Linked DNA regions of Homo sapiens. The protein of the gene in region 2 interacts with the protein of the main gene of each other region in a pairwise test. Each region holds a gene or a part of one and is shown on either strand. Other genes may lie near its edges.

Evidence for each region. The genes of interacting proteins can lie anywhere in the genome.
Region 1: the proteins of SFT2D1 (region 2) and NDRG4 interact in binary tests that used the Homo sapiens proteins (3 or more experiments, as listed by UniProt).
Region 3: the proteins of SFT2D1 (region 2) and SLC30A8 interact in binary tests that used the Homo sapiens proteins (3 or more experiments, as listed by UniProt).

The regions. Positions count from the first base shown.
Region 1 is NC_000016.10:58,503,121-58,510,146, reverse strand, and holds part of NDRG4 (protein NDRG4), read right to left. Parts: intron 6,442-7,026; exon of another isoform or gene 6,404-6,441; coding exon of another isoform or gene 6,350-6,403; coding exon 6,244-6,349; intron 5,994-6,243; coding exon 5,873-5,993; intron 5,789-5,872; coding exon 5,726-5,788; intron 5,559-5,725; coding exon 5,498-5,558; intron 3,761-5,497; coding exon 3,674-3,760; intron 3,590-3,673; coding exon 3,533-3,589; intron 3,236-3,532; coding exon 3,132-3,235; intron 2,340-3,131; coding exon 2,283-2,339; intron 2,200-2,282; coding exon 2,148-2,199; intron 1,186-2,147; coding exon 1,138-1,185; intron 994-1,137; coding exon 958-993; intron 847-957; coding exon 795-846; intron 1-794. UniProt on the Homo sapiens protein: Contributes to the maintenance of intracerebral BDNF levels within the normal range, which is necessary for the preservation of spatial learning and the resistance to neuronal cell death caused by ischemic stress.
Region 2 is NC_000006.12:166,332,535-166,339,560, forward strand, and holds part of SFT2D1 (vesicle transport protein SFT2A), read right to left. Parts: intron 1-7,026. UniProt on the Homo sapiens protein: May be involved in fusion of retrograde transport vesicles derived from an endocytic compartment with the Golgi complex.
Region 3 is NC_000008.11:117,137,973-117,144,998, forward strand, and holds part of SLC30A8 (proton-coupled zinc antiporter SLC30A8), read left to right. Parts: intron 1-7,026. UniProt on the Homo sapiens protein: Proton-coupled zinc ion antiporter mediating the entry of zinc into the lumen of pancreatic beta cell secretory granules, thereby regulating insulin secretion.

The sequences.
Region 1 (7,026 bases), on a different chromosome or scaffold from region 2:
GTCCTCCCCAGCCTTCCCACAGGCAGCCCTCCTGTTTGCCCTGGAGATAGCTCCAGAGGCTGAAGTCTGGAGGGGAACAAAAAACAAACTGAGAAGAGGAAGTTTGCCTCCTGGCAGTGGGGACCTGGAGGAACAGGTATGTCTTGGAGGGAAGGGGGAAGTCAAGGAGACACACAAGGGGTGTGTTGTGTGTGTGTGTGTGTGTGTCTGTGTGTGTGTACCTGGTTCCACCCCAGACCCAGATTTTCAGATCTGCCAAGCCAGGTTCAGCTGCTTTCAGCTCTCTGAATGCCAGGCGGCCCCAGTTGCCTTCCCTGGCCCCAAACTCCAAGCCCACTCCTATGATGCCCCTGGGTGCAGCCATGAGTTGTTTCAAAAGGCCTTCTCAGGTGCCATAGACCCAGCTCTGACCCCAAGCCCTGGGGCGGGTGAGGGGAGTGTGCCTCACCCCCAGACAGGCTTCCCTGGCAGGACACGGCCCCTGGCCCTGGACCCCCAGCACGGAAGGAAGAGTCCCTTCCCCCAGTAGGCCCAGCACTGCCATCAGAACAGTGCGCCAAGTCCTCCCTAAGGGCAAAGGGGAGTTGGGCACAGCCTGGGATGGCCAACTTGCAACTCAGGTGGCATCTGTGGGGCCCAGCATCCGGGGCCCAGGTCACACAAAACTCCTATGCTTATGGGCTCCCTACTACCACCTGACACCACGTGCCAGCCCTGCAAACAGGAGCCCCAACCCCAGCACTGCCTGCCCACCGGTCTCTAGGTGGTGTGGGGTGGGGTGGAAATGTACTCACTGTAGCCCATGCCTTGCAGGAAGTATTTGAAGGCTTCAGTCAGCTTCCCTGGCTGCGGAGGGCAGGACAAGCACATGCTTTCATTGGCTGCCTAGGATTAGCAGGTAGGGTAGAGGCTTCCCCCTCCCCATAGATGTAAGGGCAGGAGGGCCAAAAGTCTCACCTGTGTGACCTGGGGCAGCCCTCCAGAGTCTGCCATCTGCAAGGGAGAGAGTGGGGTGACCTGAGCAGGGCCCTCACTCCAGGACAAGCTCCCACCCTGGCTGGGACCCCAGGAAAACACCTCCCTGAGGTTGGGCCCATGCTAGGGAAGCTGGCCCAGGGCTGGGGAAGAAAGCCTCACCTTCAGGAAGGTCGTAGTGGTCGGGTCCAGTTTGGAGTTGCACTCCACCTGAGGACAAGGAGCCAGCTTCAGCAACAGCCCCTGCCCCTCCCCACCCCCATTGCCAAGGCAGGTTTGATGCCCCAAGCTCGGGGAGGAGAGGGGGTGCAGGGAGGCAGAGGGAGGCCCAGCAGCTGTGACAGGCTGCTCCTCCCAGGCTTTCTTCTCCCAGGGCTCCCCATGTTCTTGGAGACCAGTTTAACAGCCCCACTGAAGGGCCTGGGACCCTTGGAGCCCACTCACAACTGCTAGGAGTGGGAGTCAGGCGAGGGCTGGGCTGCCGTGGTGGGACTGGCCTGGGAAAGCCCCAGTGCCCTCGGCAGTGAGGTGAGGGGTGCCGAGGGTCTGAGAGAGACTGGGTGGAGGGGGCTGGCACAGCCCACCACCCTGCTCTTCCAGGACCTCCCAGTGGGCATGGGAAAGCCTGGTATTTTCAGGGCGCACGGGGCTGCTCTGGGCACTTCTGGACCCTGCAGCTTCCCAGCAGCTCTGTGCTGATGGGGCATCCCAGCCTCAGGCCACCTGCTCCCAGAGTTCCAGCAGGAGAGGTGACACACGGCCCCCAAACATAACCGCTGCAGGTGACGGGAAAAGGGAGACCGTGCCGCTGTATGCGTTAATGATTTATAATGGCTTGATCACATTTTAGAAAAAAGATCGTACACCCTGGGCCTGAGGTGGGTAGGGACCAAGTTGGGGCTGTGCTGCTGGGGAGGGAAGAGGGGACCTTCTGATGGCCCAGCCCTGGCCCCAGCTCTCCCCATTTCCAGGCCTCCCCAGCCAGAAGGATGGGGGCTATGCCAGATGTGAGGCTTGGCAAGACTGTGGGAAAGTGGACAAGAAGCCCACCGTCCACTGCTGGCCCTGGAGGCTCCCCTGGGCTGGATCAAGAATTGTCCCTGCTGGGCAGGGGCCAGTGAGCCCCTCACCCCTACCTCCCACCCCCAGTGAGCCCACAGCCCCTCACTTACCACCCCGTCCTCAGCGGGTGCATTATCCCCAACCACCAGCATCACGGGGCAGCTGCAGATACAGAGGAAAAGGGCTGTCTGGCTGGGTCATGGGGGCAAAGGCCAGGGCAGGCCAGAGGGCCAGGGGCCACTCACCGGAGCGTCTTGGCATTGGGCACCGTTCCAGGCCGGTTAATGTCCAGGTCTCTGCGGCTGTGGGGCAGGGGGAGGGGCAGAGGCAGAGGTGGGCACCCCAGGACAGGATGAGGGGCATCCCAAGCCCAACACTGCCAATTGGTAAAGCAGGGAGGCGTGGACCTGCTCTGCATAAATGAACTGGAGGCTCCCTGTCACGGCTTTTTGGACTCCCTAGCACATACCAGGTGGGCTCTCAAATTTTGCTCTCTATCCCCCTCAGAGCCATGCGCACCGCCACCTGTGCTGTGGGAGTTTCTGCTACTGGCCTGTCTCCTGGACCATATGGGATGGCAGGCCCTGGGTCTCTCTATTCTCTATTGTTTTGTTTTCTTAGCACCATGCACACAGCAGGTGCTTAATATTTGTAGAAGAATGAGAAGGAGGGCACGTGAGTGAGGGGGCCTGGCCACCTTCCTGCAGGGCAGGGCAGCCCCTAAAGGGGGCTCCAAGGAGCACAGCTTGAAAACCACAGGCTCATCCGACCTCTTCCTCATTTTGCAGACGTCAACATCAAGGCTGGGTTACTGGAGTCAGGGATGTCACTAACACCCCCAACATTCCCAAGCGGGAAGCCCCCAGGGGAGGAGGAAAAGTGGAAGAGCCCAAGGCCCGGAGTCTGAAACCCTGTTCCCCTCTGCCCCTCACAGGGTGTGACCTTGTGCAGGAAATGACCTCCTTTGAGGCCCAATATCGTGCCCATCTACAAACCAGGGCAAGGGTGTTGTCTGCCTGCCTCCCTCAGGGGGCAGTGTGCAAGGGCCCCCACTGGGGTGTGCTGGGTCCCAGGGCTGCTGATCCCACCCGCACCTGTTGTACATGTTCCAGAAGAGCTGCAGGTTGGCCTGGTTCACCACGTTCCCAATCTGCTGCCGGTAGCTCTGCACCAACTCTGTGTTGTTCACCAGCTCCTCCTAGGCCCAGGGAGATGGATGGAGGCATGCAGAGGGGCAGACAGAGGGACGCAGGCTTAGAGGGGGCTGGCAGATGTCACTGCCAGAGTGGCCCTTGCCCCACTCAGCAGGCAGGGGAGACAGGGTGGGGGCAGGTAGGAGGTGTGGGGCCTTGGGAGGGGATGTCTGTCTTTCAGATGGCTTAGCATCTGGAGTGAGCCAGGTCAGATGCCAAAGACACCCGCCTGCCTCCTACCGAGCCAGCTGGGAGGGGCAAATCCCAGATCACCCCAGATCTGCAGAAGTTCCCCCCCTTACCTGGCTGAAGAGGTGGGAGAGCACCGTGTCGGGTAAAGTGCTAGTTAGGCCGGAGAGCTGCAGGGAGCAGGGCGCCAGCGTGAGTGCCGCCCCTCACCCCACCCTAGGTATACCCACCCCACCCCCGGTCACCACACACACCTTGGTGGCAGCCCAGTCTATCCAGCCTTTGCCATTGGGGTCGATGTTCACCAGCACCAGCCCCTCCACCAGGTCGGGGAAGATGAGCTGCAGTAAGAGGGGAAACAGGGCCGGGCGGGGCCAGGATGGGTGCAGATGGCAGAAACACTCTGTAAAGTCTTCAAGGTGCTGCTGATCAGCCACCCGGCTACAGCCGGGTCTGTGCATGCACACCCATGTCCAGATGCCCCTGCCTGTCCTCCTCTCACTGAACCCTTCACAGTTCTTGGATTTATTTAGAATCTCTATCATTGTTTCCACCCCTACACACACACAGACACACACACACACACACACACACGCTCTTTCAACAGAATCAGCTCTTAATATATTTTTGAAGTGCAAAATTGAGTATTAAACATCTTAAAATCTTAAGCATGTTGTTTTTTTGCTTTTATAGAGAATGAAGCCCTGGCCAGGCGCCGTGGCTCACGCCTGTAATCCCAGCACTTTGGGAGGCCAAGGCGGGCTGATCACCTGAGGTCAGGCATACGAGACCAGCCTAGCCAACATGGTGAAGCCCTGTCTCTAATAAAAATACAAAAATTAGCCAGGCGTGGTGGCATGCACCTGTAGTCTCAGCTACTTAGGAGGCTGAGGCAGGAGAATTGCTTGAACCAGGGAGGTGGAGGTTGCAGTGGGCCGAGATCATGCCACTGCACTCCAGCCTGGACGACAGAGCAAGACTCCATCTCAAAAAAAAAAAAAAAAAAAAAAAAAAGAAAATGAAGCCCTCATGATATAAATTAAGAAAAAAACAACCTTTTCAAAGTCTGTTTTGCCGTAGGCATTGCAAAAGAGGTATTTTCTTTTCAACTGTTAGACTGTGCTTAAAGAAAAACAGCATAACCACATCAAGCTTGTCTAGGGTGGCAGGGAATGGCCTCCAGTTAACAAAATGATTAAGTGCTGACATTGCAACTGGAGTTGAAAATTCTTGGTCATTTCTTTTGAAGTAGTAAATGTCTTCGATCGTGAAAAATTAGTCTTTTGGGTTTTTGTTTTTTTTTTTTTTGCTTGTTTTTAGAGATGAAAAGCTTGTGAATTCCTACCCAACAATGATTTTTTTTATTTTTTTATTTTTTTGAGACAGAGTCTCGCTCTGTTGCCCAGGCTGGAGTGCAGTGGCGCGATCTCAGCTCACTGCAAGCTCCGCCTCCCGGGTTCACGCCTTTCTCCTGCCTCAGCCTCCCGAGTAGCTGGGACTACAGGCGCCCGCCACTACGCCCGGCTAATTTTTTGTATTTTTAGTAGAGACTGGGTTTCACCGTGTTAGCCAGGATGGTCTTGATCTCCTGACCTCGTGATCTGCCCACCTTGGCCTCCCAAAGTGCTGGGATTACAGGTGTGAGCCACCGACAATGATGTTTTTGAAATGTGCCTTCTTTAAACCTCCCAACCATAATAAAATTTTTTGCTAAAAAAATTATTCATGTTGAAATACCATGGCAATTAGTGAAGGACGATCCTTATTTAGTGGCTAGAGCAGTTAGTTGTATAGTTTGTTGCTACTAGAAATTCTGGCTTTGGATAATAGTTTAAGCAAGTTATAGTTTCTAGTCTCTTGAGAAAACTATATGGAGAAAGGAACCTCTTTTTTAAAAAAGTTAATTTCCCTGGAGGAAAAAAGAAAAAAGAGGTTTTCTACATAAAGAGGAGGTGGGAGGAGGAGAAGCGAGAGCAGGGACACTTCCTCAAGGCTGAAGGGTTCCCCCCAGTCCCCACCACTGGGACATCCCTGGCTTGCCCTGGTGTTTGGGGTAATGGGGGCATGGGGAGACTCACTGCAAACTTGGCCAGCACATAGGCTCCGGCGCCCACTCCGATGCCAATCACATACTTGAACCTGGTGCAGAGCAGGCTGGTCACTCTAGGGCTAGGGGTGCCATTTCCCATACATGTCATCCAGAGCAGGCCCTGCCCATAGCCTGAAGCCCTCAGCTGGAGCCAGGTGGCTCTGCAGTTGGGGTAGGCACCCCTGGGCCCTAGCGCAGGGGCTGTGCGGGGACTCACCCGAAATGCTGCACCACGCTGGGGAGCATGGCAGCCAGCTGCTCCATGGAGGGGAACTGGTACCTGCAGGCAGAGCAGGAGGTCAGGGCCCAGGTGTGGCCTCAGGTGCAGAGCTGGAGACAGGCAGAGGGGGCTCAGGGTACCTACCCCTGAGGAAACTGCGACGCCCCCACCTGTTGTCCAGGGGCATCCACGTGACACACCACAAAGTGCTTGGTGATCTCCTGCATGTCCTCGAAGTTGAAGAAGGTGTTGAAGCATAGTTTGTCTGCAAAGACACACTTCCACTATGGCTGAGCAGAGGGGCCGGGGGACTGGAAGGAAGGCCGGGCCCCCAGAGGGCAGGCAAGGCAGAAGTGTAAGCCTCGGGTCCGTCGGGGAAATGGAGGCCCGGAGGGCGAAGGCAACAGAGGTGAGTGTGAGTGGGGCTGACAGGGCCCTGTGGGGAGGGTGGGGGGCCTCACCGCTCTGGCTGATGGGAGGCAGAGGAGGGCTGACTGAGGCTGGGCTGCACTTACGGTTGAGGCCCACATCATGGTAGGTGAGGATGGCTGGGCGGTTCCCCTTGGGGGAGCCCCGGATCACTACATGCAGAAGGCCGTAGGGTGTCTCGATGTCATGTTCCTGAAGGGGAGAGACCGTGCTGGACACTCTGGGCAGCCTCCGCTCTTGGCTCCTCTGGGGAATGAGGTGACGCAGCCTGGTACCTGTTAGGCCTGTGGTAGAGCCCCTACTTGGGGCATCCTGTTCTCATCACCCCAAGAAGCCCCCAGAGAGGACTGAATGGATGGAACACCCCTTCTCAGGGCTGTTCAGTACAGAGACAATGTGAACTGATCTGCATGGGGAAGGTCTGGTCCTCTCTGCAAACCAGCCACTGGTTTGTGCTGTCACTGTCCTCCGCCCTTGAGGGTCCAGGGAGGCTGTTTTTCTCCATCTTGCAGCAGCCCCTCCTGGACAGCTCTGCCTCCCCAGCCCAAGTCCCTCTCACACTCAGAACTCTCAGGCACTTCCTGCTGCTGCAGGGGAACGGCCTCAGTGGTCCTGCCTGGAATCCTCAGAAAACACCCCGTGCCAGCCAAGCCTAGCCCCGACCCCGGCACTGCCCCTGGCTCCCACTCTAAGGCTCTTGCGCATGTGGTTCCTTCCACCTTGAACGCCCTTCTGTGTGAGCCCAGCATCCTCAAGGGCTCCCTTCAGGCAGGCCCGGGTCAGACCCCCCTCCCCATCCCCTCTAGAGGCCTTCTGCAGAGCCTGCTCTGGGATCCTCTTGAGTTCACACCTTTGGTTTTGCTGCTCAA
Region 2 (7,026 bases):
TGAGCCACGAGCCACTGCACCCAGCCTGCTTATCATAAGCATTTATGTGCTGCTTTCTTTTACCACCAATCAGGAGCAATCCCACCAAAACCAGCAACTTTGTTAATCTCTTAGTCTTAGAAAAGAAATAAAATTGCCACCTCTTCCTCTCCCAAAACCACCATCCATCATTTTACTTATCTGCTACCAGAGGAAGAGGAAGCCAAGAGAATACAGGCCCTTGAGGAGGGGCTGCTCCCCTATTCCCGCCACAGTAAGCACAGCACTGCTTGCAACTAGAACTTCATTCATTAATTTTTTACAAAAGCAGGTGAGAAACATAATAGAGGAAAATGTAGTCCTAGCAGCAACAACATGAAGGCTGAATGAGTGGCTCCCACAGCACAGCCGAAACCCACCCCTTTAAGTGACGGAGAAGCTGAGGAACAGCTCTAATCCACGGATCGCCAGGAGACAGCACAGCTGGAAGGACCTGAGCCTTGCCCCTGGGCTTCTGCCATCTAAACATAGGAAACACTTGTGGCTTTCCACTAATGATGACACTGAATCCAGTATTCCTCCCACTCCTTTTTCAAAATAGCAGTGGGTATAAAAAGTCAAAGTTGTGCAGACAAGTGAGAAAAAGAAACAGACATCCGCAGACCCTCAGGCCCATTCCAGGCAGAACCGCCCGCTCCCCACACCCGCTGCTGGGGTCCACACTTTCTCCTTCTCATTCAGGACTCTTGATCGCGGGGCCTATCCAGATCCTTGCAGCATGCGGCACGGGTTCCACGTGTGCGTGGGCAGCCTGGCCTTTCTGTGCAGCATCCCCTGATCTCCACTGGCCTTTCCCCTCCACTCCACTCAGTGACCCAGCCCAGGGCAGTCTTCCTGCTCGAAATTACACCATCGCCAAAATTCCGGCTGCCGCTCTCCGACCCGTTTCTTCTGGCAGCAGGCTGGTTCCTCGGCCCCACCGTGCTGACTCCTTGGCCTCCTGAACTCCTCATCCGGCCCTTCTCCGTTTTTTCAGCGGCTTCAACAGGACATTCAAATTCCCTTTCCGCTGCCTCCACCTGGTAAAATCCCACCGGAGTGCAGCTTTCCCTCCTCCTGCTCCAGGAGGTGCTGAGCTGAGCACTGCTGGGTGGAGTCAGGCACAGGGCAGGGGGGTCCTGAGCCAGTCCTCATCAGCCCCCCATGGCCTGCACATTGCTGCCTGGCAATCTAAGGCTTCTTGCTTTATCTCAACGTCCATTTTACTCTAAACCACTTCAAACCTCCACTTCCTGCCCCACACTTCCATTCTTAGCAGACAACTTCCCCTACTTCACACACAGAAACCCAAAGCCATCAGTGTGAACTCCCTTACCTTCCTGCTGCCACCAAACCACCAAACCACCAAACACACCAACTAAGAACACCCATGCTCTTGTCCTTTCCTGGTTCCCACAGAGCTGAGATCCACCTGTCCACCCTGCTTTACAGCCAACCCCTTACCTGCTCAGGGAATTGATGCTATTGGGCTTTTTCCTCTAGTGAACATGTTCTCACTCTCTGAAAATGCATCCATCAACTTTTAAACATGAAGTCCCTTCCATCTTAAACAGAAAGCTTACTTCACTTCACCTTCCAGCCTCTGTACACTCATACATCCATTCATCCATCCATCCATCCATCCACTAACTGGCTCAATAAATACTGAGTGCTGCTATGTGCCTGTTCTAAGTGCTGGGTAAGGGATCCAGCTCCTGGTTAAAAATCTATGTGCTGGCTGCTACACCAAAAATACCATAGGCCAGGCACTGTGGCTCACGCCTGTAATCCTGGCACTTTGGGAAGCTGAGGCAGGCGGATTGCTTGAACCCAGTTCAAGACCTGCCTGGGCAACATGGCGAGTCCTCCATCTCTACAAAAAATACAAATATTAGCCAGGTATGGGGGCACACACATGTAGTGCCAGCTACTTGGGAGGCCGAGGTGGGAGGATCACCTGAGCCCGGGAGTCAGAGGTTGCAGTGAGCCGAGATCACACCACTGCACTCCAGTGTAAGTCAGAGTCTCCCAAAGAGCCTAAACAGCTGTGGAAGCTCCTCACTGGAGGGCCGACTGTGGAATCTCGGCACTGGAGGGCTGAGCTTTGAAACAACTGATGAGAACCTGAGAAGCCAATCTGAGCGATGGGGAACGCTCGTGGACTGTGTAGTCATGAGATCCAAGCACCAAGCACTCTGGGGCTTTGGGTTTGTCCTGTATGCCGCTGTGAAGGAGGTGGATGCGCCATGAATGCAAAGCCACACAAGGTGGATGAAGAGTTGTGGAACCAAAGGGCTGTCTCGAGAAGATTCTCAAAGACGAGGTGCCCAACTGTGAAAAAGATATTTGCTGGCGGCATTAAAGAAGACATTGAAGAACATCGCCTAAGAGATCTTGAACAGTATGGAAAAACTGAAGTGACTGAAATCATGACTGACAGAGGTAGTGCCAAGAAAAGGGGCTATGCCTTCGTGCCTCTGACAACCACGACGCTGTGGACAAGACTGTCACTCAGAAATACCATACTGTGAATGGCCAAAACTGTGAAGTTAGGGAAGTCCTGTGAAAGCAAGAGATGGCTAGTGCTTTATCCAGCCAAAGAGGTCGAAGTGCTTCTGGAAACTTTGGTGGTGGTTGTGGAGGTGGTTTTGGTGGGAATGACAACTTCGGTCATGGAGGAAATTTCAGTGGTCATGATGGCTTTGGTGGCAGCTGTCCACAGCGGTGGCGGTGGATACAGTGGCAGCAGGGATGGCTGTAATGGATTTGGTAATGATGGAATCAATTCTGGAGGTGGCAGAAGCTCCAATGATTTTGGCAATTACAACAATCAGCCTTCAAATTTTGGACCCATAAAGGGAGGAAACTTTGGAGGCAGAAGCTCTGGCCCTTATGGTGGTGGAGAACAATACTTTGCCAAATTTTACTTTACTTTACAAAACCAAGGTGGCTACGGTGGTTCCAGTAGCAACAGTAGCCATGGCACTGGCAGAAGATTTTAACCCATTTATGCCTGAGGTTGCACTTTTTGAATTTGAAAAATCAGACCTTGGCGATGACCTTGAACAGGAGAACATAAATAACTCCCACATGCTTAGCGTTCCAATAATGGAATACCAGGCATAAATGGGTTCACAAAACCAAGGTGGCTATGGTGGTTCTAGTAGCAGCAGTAGCCATGGCACTGGCAGAAGATTTTAATCACTGCCAGGAAACAAAGTTTAGCCGGAAAGGAGAGCCAGAGAAGCGATAGGGAAGCTACAGGTTACAAGAGATTTGTGAACTCAGTCAGCCAAGCACAGTGGTGGCAGAGCCCAGCTGCTACAAAGAAGATATGTTTTAGACAATACTCACGTGTATGAGCAAAAAACTCCAGGACTGTATTTGTGACTAATTTTATTAACAGGTTATTTTCGTTTCTGTTCTGTGGAAAGTACCAAGCATTCCAACAAAGGGTTTTAATGTAATTTTTTTCTTTTGCACTCATGCTGTTGATTGCTAAATGTAATAGTCTGATCATGAGACTGAATAAATGTGTCCTTTTAAAAAACGTGCTGTGTAAAGTTAGTCTCCTCGGAAGCCATCTTGGTAAACTCCCCCAAGAGTGTGAAGTCAGAATTCCTTCAGGGTGATGCCAGGTTCTACTTGGAACTTATTTACACTCTGCTCGGGTGGAGAAGCCACTGTCTTCAGTGAGCTCGGTGTAGCTGAACTGACAGTTACTGTTGTGACCTGAAGTTCACCACCAAAGGGGATCACCCAAGCAAAGTCACAGAATTATTAGTTATAAAAATGATTGTTGGCACATCCCATGCAATATATCTAAACTGAATAATGGTACCAGATAACATTATAGATGGGAATGAAGCTTGTGTATCATCCATAATTGTATGTAGCTAATAAACTATTTAATTCTCTTAAAAAAACACTGTAGACTGGGTAGCTTATAAACAACAGACACTTATTTCTCTCAGTTCTAGAGACTGGAAGTCCATGATCAAGGCGCCAGCAGATTCGGCGTCTGGTGAGGCATCTCTGGTTCACAGATGACACCTTCTGAGTCCTCACACGATGGAAAGGGCAATGGATCCTTCTTTTCCTCAACTTCCCAGGCTCAAGCAATCCTCCCACCGCAGCCTCCCATGTAGCTGGGACCACAGGCACACACCATCACGCTCAACTAATTTTTTAATTTTTTGTAGAAGCGGGGTCTCGCCATGTTGCCCAGACTGGTCTTGAACTCCTGGGCCCAAGCAATCCTCCTGCCTCAGGCTTCCAAAGTGCTGGGATTATAGGCATGAGCCACTGCATGTGGCCTGGGGCCTCTTTTTTAATAGGGCATGAAACCCATTCCTAATCACATCCCAAAGGCACCTCCTCCTCATACCATCACATTGGGGATTAAGTTTCAACATAGGAATTCTGGGGGGGACACAGACATTCAGACCACAGCACTGTGAGTGATTTTGGGGCTGGCCACAGGCAATTACACAGGCTCTAGCAGGCAGGCCTCCCGGGGAAAGCTCCCTCTGCACACCAGACTTGGAGCACAGCCCAGGCAGTGTAGCCCCTGGGGAGGTGCAGTCAAGGTCCCAGGCCCTTCGGCCCACCACACTTTTTCATGTAGTTCCCTTCCTAGCCCAGTGCCTTATTTCCCAGGAATCCTTATCTGAGGCTGTAGGAGTAGACGGGACCCCCAGCTGGCACACGCCTGGCACAGTGGTTGGGAAGCTCACCTTGACCATTCTAGCTTCAGCCCTCCCCTGGCTGAAACCCTGCAGACACAAGTCACTTCCGTGTCCTTAATTCCAAGGAACATTTTTGAAGCATCAGTATCCTTTCCAACTCAACAGCACAGGACACTTTGGCACTCCCTCCTGCTTACAATGTTCTCTTCAACTCCCATGTCCCACCGGCTCTCCTGACTGTCCTCCCGCCTCGCCAGCTGCTCCTGCTTGGGGTCTCCTCTGCCGCCTTAGCTCCTTCTACCTGGAAAGACAGCTTCCTCCTTGTGTTTCTCTACACTCCCCCTAACCACCTCACCCACACCTACCATGGGAACAGTGAGGGAAATAGATAAGGTAGGTATACTTACAATCTTCTAAGTGGGAAAGGCAGAGAGAGCTTAAATTGTTTATTAGGCATTTTTCTCTTATTACCATCTTCCACGCGGTGATCTTTGAAGTGAAACATGATAAATTAATGCCATTTGTAAATATGAAATAACTCAGTCAACAAGCAAATGACTTGTCTCAACCTGTGTGCTATGGTCTGAGTGTTTGCTGAAATCCTCGACCCCATGGTGATGGTACTGGAAGATGGCCCTTCAGGAGATGATCAGGTCATGGGGATGGAGTCCTCATGAATGGGATCCACGCCCTAATAAGACGAGAAAGAGACTAAAGCTCTCTGCTCTCTGCCATGTCAAGATATAACCAGAGGCAACAGTGTGACACCAGGAAGGGGGAGGCCTCACCAAGAACCCATGAGTGCACCTTGATCTCTGACTTCCGGCCTCAAAACCCGTAAGAAATAAATTTCTGTTGTTTATAAATCACAAAGTCTAAGGTATTTTATTACAGCAGGCTGAATGGACTAAGACATCTCGCAAATTGTCAGCAGGGGTTAGTAGGACTCCCACAAGAGAACTCTGTAGAATGTTCCGGCATTATGTTCTTGTCATCTAACTCCCAACAATTACCTTATGCCAATGCCCTCAGCTCTCCTTGGTAGTTACCCAAATCCAAACAACTCACTCATCTGTTTGTTCAACAAGTAGTTATGAACAGCTATTAGACACCAGGTACTTGGTAGGTTCTACATACACAGAAAGGAATAAGACAGCACCTAGCGTACTTACATTCAGATGGGGGAAAATGGGCAATAAACTAATGAGGCAGGTTCTACTAAGGACATAAATAGGGGCAGAGTAACTGGGTCAGGAAGAGCCTCTCTAAAGAGGTGACCAAGTGAAGACATCAGGAAGTGACCAATCCAACTCTGAAAAGAGCCAGGAAGGGGCATTCCTGAAAAAAGAAATGCAACTGCCAGGTCTCCCAGGCAGAAGAAAATGGCTCCAACTGAGGAGGAGAAAGAGGGCAGGGCAAGGCAAGCACTGGGGAGAGGGTGGGGAGGCGGGCCGACAAGCAGTGCAGGGCTGAGAGGCCAAGGGAGGGATCTGGATTTTACTCAAGTGCTGCAGGAAGTCAATGAAGGATGTGATCAGGGGAGGAATATGATCAACTCTCTTAAGATCTGGCTCAATATCTCTCCCTCCTTGACTTCTTCCCAGGCATCTCGAAGGAGAGGTCCCAGAACTCTGGCTACCGTGCCTCTCCCCGGGGCTCAAAGCGCCTGCATAGGAGGATGATGCAGCCTGGATGTCAGGATGCTCCCCTATGACCTTCACTGCCTCGCCCAACTCCTCAACTGGCCTAGAACCATCCCTGTCAAGACCCAATTCCAATGTGCCCGCCATCCTGGTTACGTCTTGCTGCACAAGACGTGCAACACTCTCAGGTCATCCCTCACCCCATTCAGGTCTGTGCGCCTTTAATCCCATCTCATCTCCTACCCATCTCCAAAAACCAACAGCAAACCTCCCTATGTCCTCACCCTCTTCTCTGATGATCCTCTCACCTTCCGGCTAGGTTTGAAATTTAGTCTCCAGGACCAGGGCTCTCCCCTGTGAATCCTGTACCACTTGGACAGGCAGTGAGCTAGGTGTCTGCCCTCCTCACTGCCACTTCCTGCCCCTTCCTCCTCCCTAGAGAAACCTGCTTTCCAAGTCACTCCTCAATAGCCCCCTAGCAACAATTCCCTCTTGCCTGCACCATAATTTTCCCCTTTCCTGGACCATTCCCAATGCACAGAAACATCCAGTATTTTCCTTGGGAAAATGACATGTTCCCCGACCCCACTGCATCCTTCAACTACCACCCACTTCTTTGCTCCACAGGAAAAATCACTGAGATGGCCATACCATCTCCATCTTCTTTCTATTCTCCC
Region 3 (7,026 bases), on a different chromosome or scaffold from region 2:
GTGCCATGAACCATATTTTTTTACCCTCTCCATTCTCTCCAAATCTGTTTCATTGGTGGGATTCTCTGGGCTTTGGGTTCATTGTAGCAAAAAAAAAAAAAAAAAAAAGAAAAAGAAAAAAAAAAGTCGTGTAAAGTTGAACTACAACACGAAAAACAATCAATGTTTTTCTTGGTGCTAGGTGGAAGGGATCAAGTTTCTCTTTTCCCCAAGCCATATGTTGAAGAAGTGCAGAGGAAGTAAGGGCAGGAATAGATGGTAGAGGTAAACTGCTAGAACCTTTACAACAACTATTTAACTGCTAAAAATTATAAAAAAGAAATGAAAATCTCTGGAAGTTGTCTTAAGGGCATGCAGAAAATTAATAATTATTTATTCAAGAAAATCTAAATCTCAGTAAGAAGTGAGCGTCTATGGCATTTGAGCCAAGATCTGCTCCATTAACCTCTGTTCTTCCCAAGCTCAGTATGATGAGAGCTCAACTCTGAGTGGATGTAGCCAAAAGACTGGGCTCCCTCTCCTCCCAGCTTCCAGTTAAAGATCATAGTTCACCCCTAGAGCAAAAGGCTGTTGGAATCTCTTATTGTCCCAGCTTCAGGTTGCAGAAATTCTATTCATTGTAGACAGGACCAAGAGGACTATGGTTTCCTTCCTCTACCCAGCCTCCTCTCATAGGGTATAATCTCTAGCCCAGGAGCAGCAAGGTCCTGAATATCCCTGCCCTGGATCACTCATAGTGTATAGGATGTATTCCAGGAGGCATAAGCAAAAAAGACTAGGGACTACGATCCGTATTCAGTGCTCCACTTGTGGAGCAAGAGTATTGCTCCAGGAGAAGTAGGTCACTGTCTCTTCTGCCAGCTCTGGTGCAGTGGTGTAAAGGTACTACTCATAGGAGAGGCAGGCCATAAGAATAGAGGGCTATGTATCTTTCCCTTAGAAGACTGATGATACATAAGCTGGAATTTTATTTGTAAGACAGCATAGGGTATTTCAAGCATAGGGACACTGTTGAAAACAATGAAGATTCTTCTGGTGGACAATTAAGAGTAGGCTTGTTGCTTCATGATAGCAACAAGATAGTGGCAGACCAGCTAGAAGTTAAGCAAAGACAGGCAGAAAAAGAGGTAAAAAATGCCCTCTTGGATTTGGCACTAGCCACAAAATTTGGCCTCAAATATTACCCCTATAAAGAAGCCTGTTATAGATTGAATGTTTATGTCCCCCACAATTATATGTTGAAGCACAAATGCCAGTGTGGCTGTATTTGGAGATAGGGCCTCTAAGGAAGTAATTAAGGTTAATTGGGGTTATAAGAGTGGGGTCCTGATCTGACAGAATTAATGTTCTTATAAGAAGAGACTCCAGATAGCTCACTCTCTCTCTCTTTTTGGGTGCACACACTAAGGAAAGACCACGCGAGGAAGTAACGAAAAGGCAAGCATCTATTAGCCAGAAAGAGAACCCTCACCAGTGAATTTGCTAGCAGCTTGATTATGGACTTCCATCCTCTGGAGCTGTGAGAAAATACATTTTTGTTGTTTAAGCCACACAGTCTGTGGTATGTTGTTATAGTAGCTGAAGCAGACAAATTTAATTGGATCAGATTGTTGGTCAATTCATACCTCAGGGTATTATTGAAAACCATAGAGCAACAATTCAGCAAACAATTAAGAAGGCCAAAATCTGGGTGTGATACCAACACAGGCAGAACAATCACTTAACAGTGAGATAGTGGAAAGAAACAGTCAAAGTGAACACTACTAAAATGATTATTATCCCTTGGAAATGGGAGAGGATAAGAAAGACTGCATCTACCCAATGATGCACCTTCTGAGGAATGGCAACAGAGGCTGCGCATGCAGGGAAAGTCAGACAACATCTGGTAAAAAAAAAAAAAAAAAAAGTAGAAACAGTCCAGGTGTTGTATTTAGAATTTGAATATTTCAAAACAGCTATTATAACTAGGTTAAAAGAATTAAAGAAAATCAAAGAACAAAGAATTAAAGATAGATATGATTTAAAATGTCTCATAAAATTGAGAATATCAATGAAGAGTTAGAAATTATTTTTTAAAAAAGAACCAGATGAAAATTCTGAAGTTGAAAAGTACAATAAATGAAATTAAAAATTCACTAGAGGGGTTCAACAGTAGAGCTGTACTCATAGAAGCTGGCAGAAGAAAGAATCACTGAACTTGAAGATAGATTGGAAGATATTATGCAACATGAAAAACAGAGAAAATAGAATGAAGTAAAAAAATCAACAGAGCCTCAGAGAAATGTGGTACATTGTTAAATGCATTAACATATTCATAATAAGAGGGCCAGAAGGAGAGAGAAAAAGGAGCAGAAAAACAGTCAAAGAAATAGTGGCCCCAAACTTCTGAAGTTTGTTGAATATTAATCTACACATTCATGATGGTCAACAAACTCTAAGAAGAATCAAGCAAATAGATTTACATGCTTGCACATTACAGTAAAACTATTAAAAGCAAAACACAAATAAAAAACCTTGAAAGCAGCAAGAGAAAAAAGAAAAGATTCATTATGTATGAGAGCATCCTGATCAGATTAACAGCCAACTTCTACCAGAAGCAAAGGAGGATGGCAGTGAGATGACATTTAAAGCTGTAAAAGAAAAAGAAATTCCTATCAACCAATAATCTTACATCTACCTAAACTATATTCCTAAAATAAAGATGAAATAAAGACAAACAAAATCTAAGATAATTTGTTGCTGGATTCACTTTACAAAAATCAGTAAAGAAAGCAATAGTAAAGGAAGAAATATTAAAGAAAACAAATGACACCAGATATTAAGTTGAATCATTCCTAAAAAATAATAGCACCAATAAAGGTAATAATGTGGGTAATTATAAAAGACAAATGATTTGTTCTCCTTTTTCCTCTTAACAGATTTAATAGTAAACTGCATGAAATAAAATGTATATAATCTTAGATGAAATGGATAAATTCATAGAAAGACACCGACTACCATATGAACTTAAGAAGAAATAGAAAATCTGATAAGTAAAGATATTGAATTATTAATAAATTTCATAAAACCTTACACAAAGAAAGCCCAAGTCCAGATGTCCTCACTGGTGATTTCTACCAAAATTTAAAATAGAATTAATATTAACTCATCACAAATTCTTCCCCAAAATAGAAGAGGTGTAAATACACTTCCCAACTCATTTTATGAGGTCAATATTCTGCTGATAGCAAAAAAGGAGGAAATATCACAGGAAAATAAAACTACAGAACAATATCCCTTATGAATACAGATGCAGTAATCCTTGAAAAGACTAATGAACTGAATCCAGCAACATATAAAATTACGAACAATGATAAAATGGGATTTATCCCAGTAATGCAAGCTTAATTTAACATCTGAAATACAAAGTGATACAACATATTAATAGGATACAGAACAAAGCTCACATGATTATCTCACTAGATGCAGAAAACGAATGGACAAAATTCAACACCCTTTAATTATATAAACACCTGTGAAACTAGAAATAGAACGAAACTTCTTCAAAAGCATCCATGAAAAACTTGCAGCTCATATCATAATTTTTTTCAATAGGTTTTTTGGGAACAGGTGGTGTTTGGTTACATGGATAAGCTCTTTAGTGGTGATTTCTGAGATTTTGAAGCACCCATCACCTGAGCAGTGTACACTGTACCAATGTGCAGTCTTTTATCATAATTATGGTGAAAGCCTGAAAACTTTCCCCTAAAATCAGGTACAAGATAAGGATGTCCACTTCAATGAGTTCTACTCAACGTGGTACTGTGTGTTCTAGCCAGAGCAATTGGGAAGACAACAAAATAAAAGACATTCAGACTGGAAATAATTTAATAATCTGTGCATTCATCTTGTTCCAGTTACACTTTGAAGTGGTTTATATGAATTAGCTAAAAATCTCTCAAGCAGCCTATGAGAGTGATGCTATCATTATTCCTATTTTCAGATGGGGAAATTGAGGCACAGAGAGGTTAAGTAATTTTCTTACAGTCATATGACTAGTGAGTGGTAAGGGTGGGAGTTCAACTGAGGTGGTGGGTTGCCAGAGCCCAAGCTCTCAGCCTCTATACTGCACTGCCTGCCACTCAGCCCCATCTTGGGAATTGGCATGCCCTTCTCCAGGTTACTCTAACCAGAAACCAACAAGTCATCTTTGAGTTGCACCTCTCTATTATTCCCCCTTAACTACTGTTATTTATTAGCAAGTCCTATTGACTCCACCTCCCAAAAGTCCCTCAAATATGACTACTTCTTTCTATTTTTATTGTCACCACGTGGGTCAAAGCCACCAATGTGTTGGCTGTAGTCACCTCCTAAGGGTTTCTATGTTTTGATCTTTTACACTCTAGTCTTCCAGGCAGCACCCAAAGTGATCATTTTAGAAATGTGAACCATGTAATGTTACTTCCCAGCTCAAAACTTTCCAAATTTTTCCTTTTAGACCTTGAATTAAATTAAACTCTTTATAATGGCCTGAAGTGTTCTGCAAAATCTGATCCCTTTTTTGACCTCTTTATATTTCACTCTTTCTTTACGCCACAGGGGACACCTATGTAGTTTTCTTTCTGTTCAAGACAAGCACTTGAACAAGAAAATCCTTCTTGTCTTTGGGCATTTGCTCCAGCAATGCCCTCTACTTGGGATAGCCTTCACTCACATAGGTTTTCTCCTGGTAATTCTATAACTTGCTGCTGAGATATCACCTCCACAGCGGTGCCTTTCCTTCCCACACAATTTAAGGTAGTTCATCTTCCCTTGCCTTCTCACCATTCATCATACTATATAGCCTCTGTTACTATTGATTCATTTACTCTTTGTCTCCCTCTACTAAAATACAAGATCTTTAAAGAAGGAACTTTGTTTTTCTCATACAACATGGTATCATTAACACTTCTGATGGTGCAGGCCCTTTTTAGGTATGCAGTAAATATTTAATGATGAATGAATGAAATGTTAGACATTCATGGTGAGGCTGAAGCTTTTATCTCCCCTTCTAACAGGAATAGTGATTTGAGGTTCTTGGGAAAATTGATATGAAAGTACAAAAGCAAAGTGATTTTTATGTGCTCAACATTTGAAATAAGAGGATAAAAAAATACAAATTTTACCAACATTATTTTGGAGATAGAAGCAAAGTTCTACCACTCAACAAAAAAACATTAAAAAATAAAAGCTTCTCCAAGATTGCAAAAATAAAGTCCCATTTTCTAAATCCCATTTTTGGAGATGAAATCAAAGTTTTAGAGTACTGGCATCAAATTTTCTAATATTTCTGTACTTTTTCATCTCTTTTTCTCCGTCTTTTTTCTCTTTGATGCTACAGTAAATTTCTTTGGCCTATTATTCCTAATTTTTAAAGCTTTGGCCATATTTGAATGCATGGGAATCTTCCAGGATTTATTCATTAACAGCAGATTCACAATTCAGTGTTTGTTGCATCATAGCATTTGCTTTTTATAACTTTCTTCTTAAAATAATACTTAAAATTCACATCATTGTTCTGATCAAGAGCCTGTTCTGCATCTAGAGATACTTAGATGACTTGACTTTAATGAGATGATAAGGAATATATCTTAACTTTGGTTTTTAACTTCTTTGAGGTCACAGGCTCTTTTGGGAGCCAAGTGAAGACTGTGTACTCTTGCCTCTCCCATAAAACACACACACACACACACACACACACACACACTCACACATGAACACATCGTATACAATTCCAATGGACCTTATGAAGCCCACTTTTGGATTTCTGGCTTAGTTCTTCAAGGAGCAGTCTCAGCTCAGAGTATATCCATATTTGTTAACCTTAGAACCCAAGACAGGGAAGCAGTACACAAAAGTAAAAATTGCCCACATTTTCACACTTTCCTCCTTGTGGCATTGCTCAGGGGCTTTTCTCCAGGTTTGATTCTTGCTTTGGACTGGCTTCTGAGCTGCTCCAGGATAAATTATCTCTCCTGGTCACTGACTACTTGGCTTTCCCTGGTCATAAGATTCATGAGAAACATAAAATAAAGCAATGCTTCATATGACCACAGCATACCAGGCAGTTCCAGAACAATTGGTGAGCCTGCTTTGCTCATGCTGTCTTCTCAGCCCAAGGAAACAGTAAATCTCAACAATGTGTTCAAGTTAGTACTCAGGTTCCTCTGAGATGATGGCCACTGGGGACCCAAACTACCAAATTCTGTGGTTATTATTAGGATATTATACATAACAAAAGCAAAAGTCTACTCATTTAAGATATAAATACTTTATTTGTTACTTTCCAAATTGTTCTTATTCCAACTAAGAAGATTGTTTGGAACTACTCAAAATCCTGAGTGCTATTCACATAACTGATAAAAAACCAATGTTGTAAATTGGCTTTAATGTATATTCCAAAGCCAGTTTGGCAATATATGTCAAAATCCTTAGAAATGTAGGTACCTTTTGACCAAGTAATTTCCCCTTTAAGATTCCACTTTAAGGAGATAATATATTGAGCAAAGATTAATTATAAGGATGTGAATCATAGTAGTGCCTATATGAGCAAATAATTGGAAAAAAATGAGTTGTCCAATAATTTAAAAATATTAGTTAATTATGCTATGATATAGCTATATTAAATATATACTGCCTTCCATATTTTAAACATAATGATATAGAAAATTTTATAAATGGAGAAAATATTAACAATATTGATAGCTGAGAATCAGGTTCAGAATCTGTATCTTTGGTAGGATCCTCTTGTGATGCAATCATCTTATTCACATCCATTCTAGCGCTTCCCCACTGAGGAGCAGCCCTGTGGTTTAGGTAGAATTTTCCCTATTCTCAGCTCTATGAGTCAGCATGGCTGGGTTTTGCCAGTCTTCTGAGTATAATAATGCCTAAGTCAATCAGCTCATCCATATTCCCCTGGCTATAGTGGTTGTTTCTCATTTAGCTAAATCCACATGCACATCAAGACTGTTGTGTAGCAGTTTGAGAGGGGATAATCTCTCTATG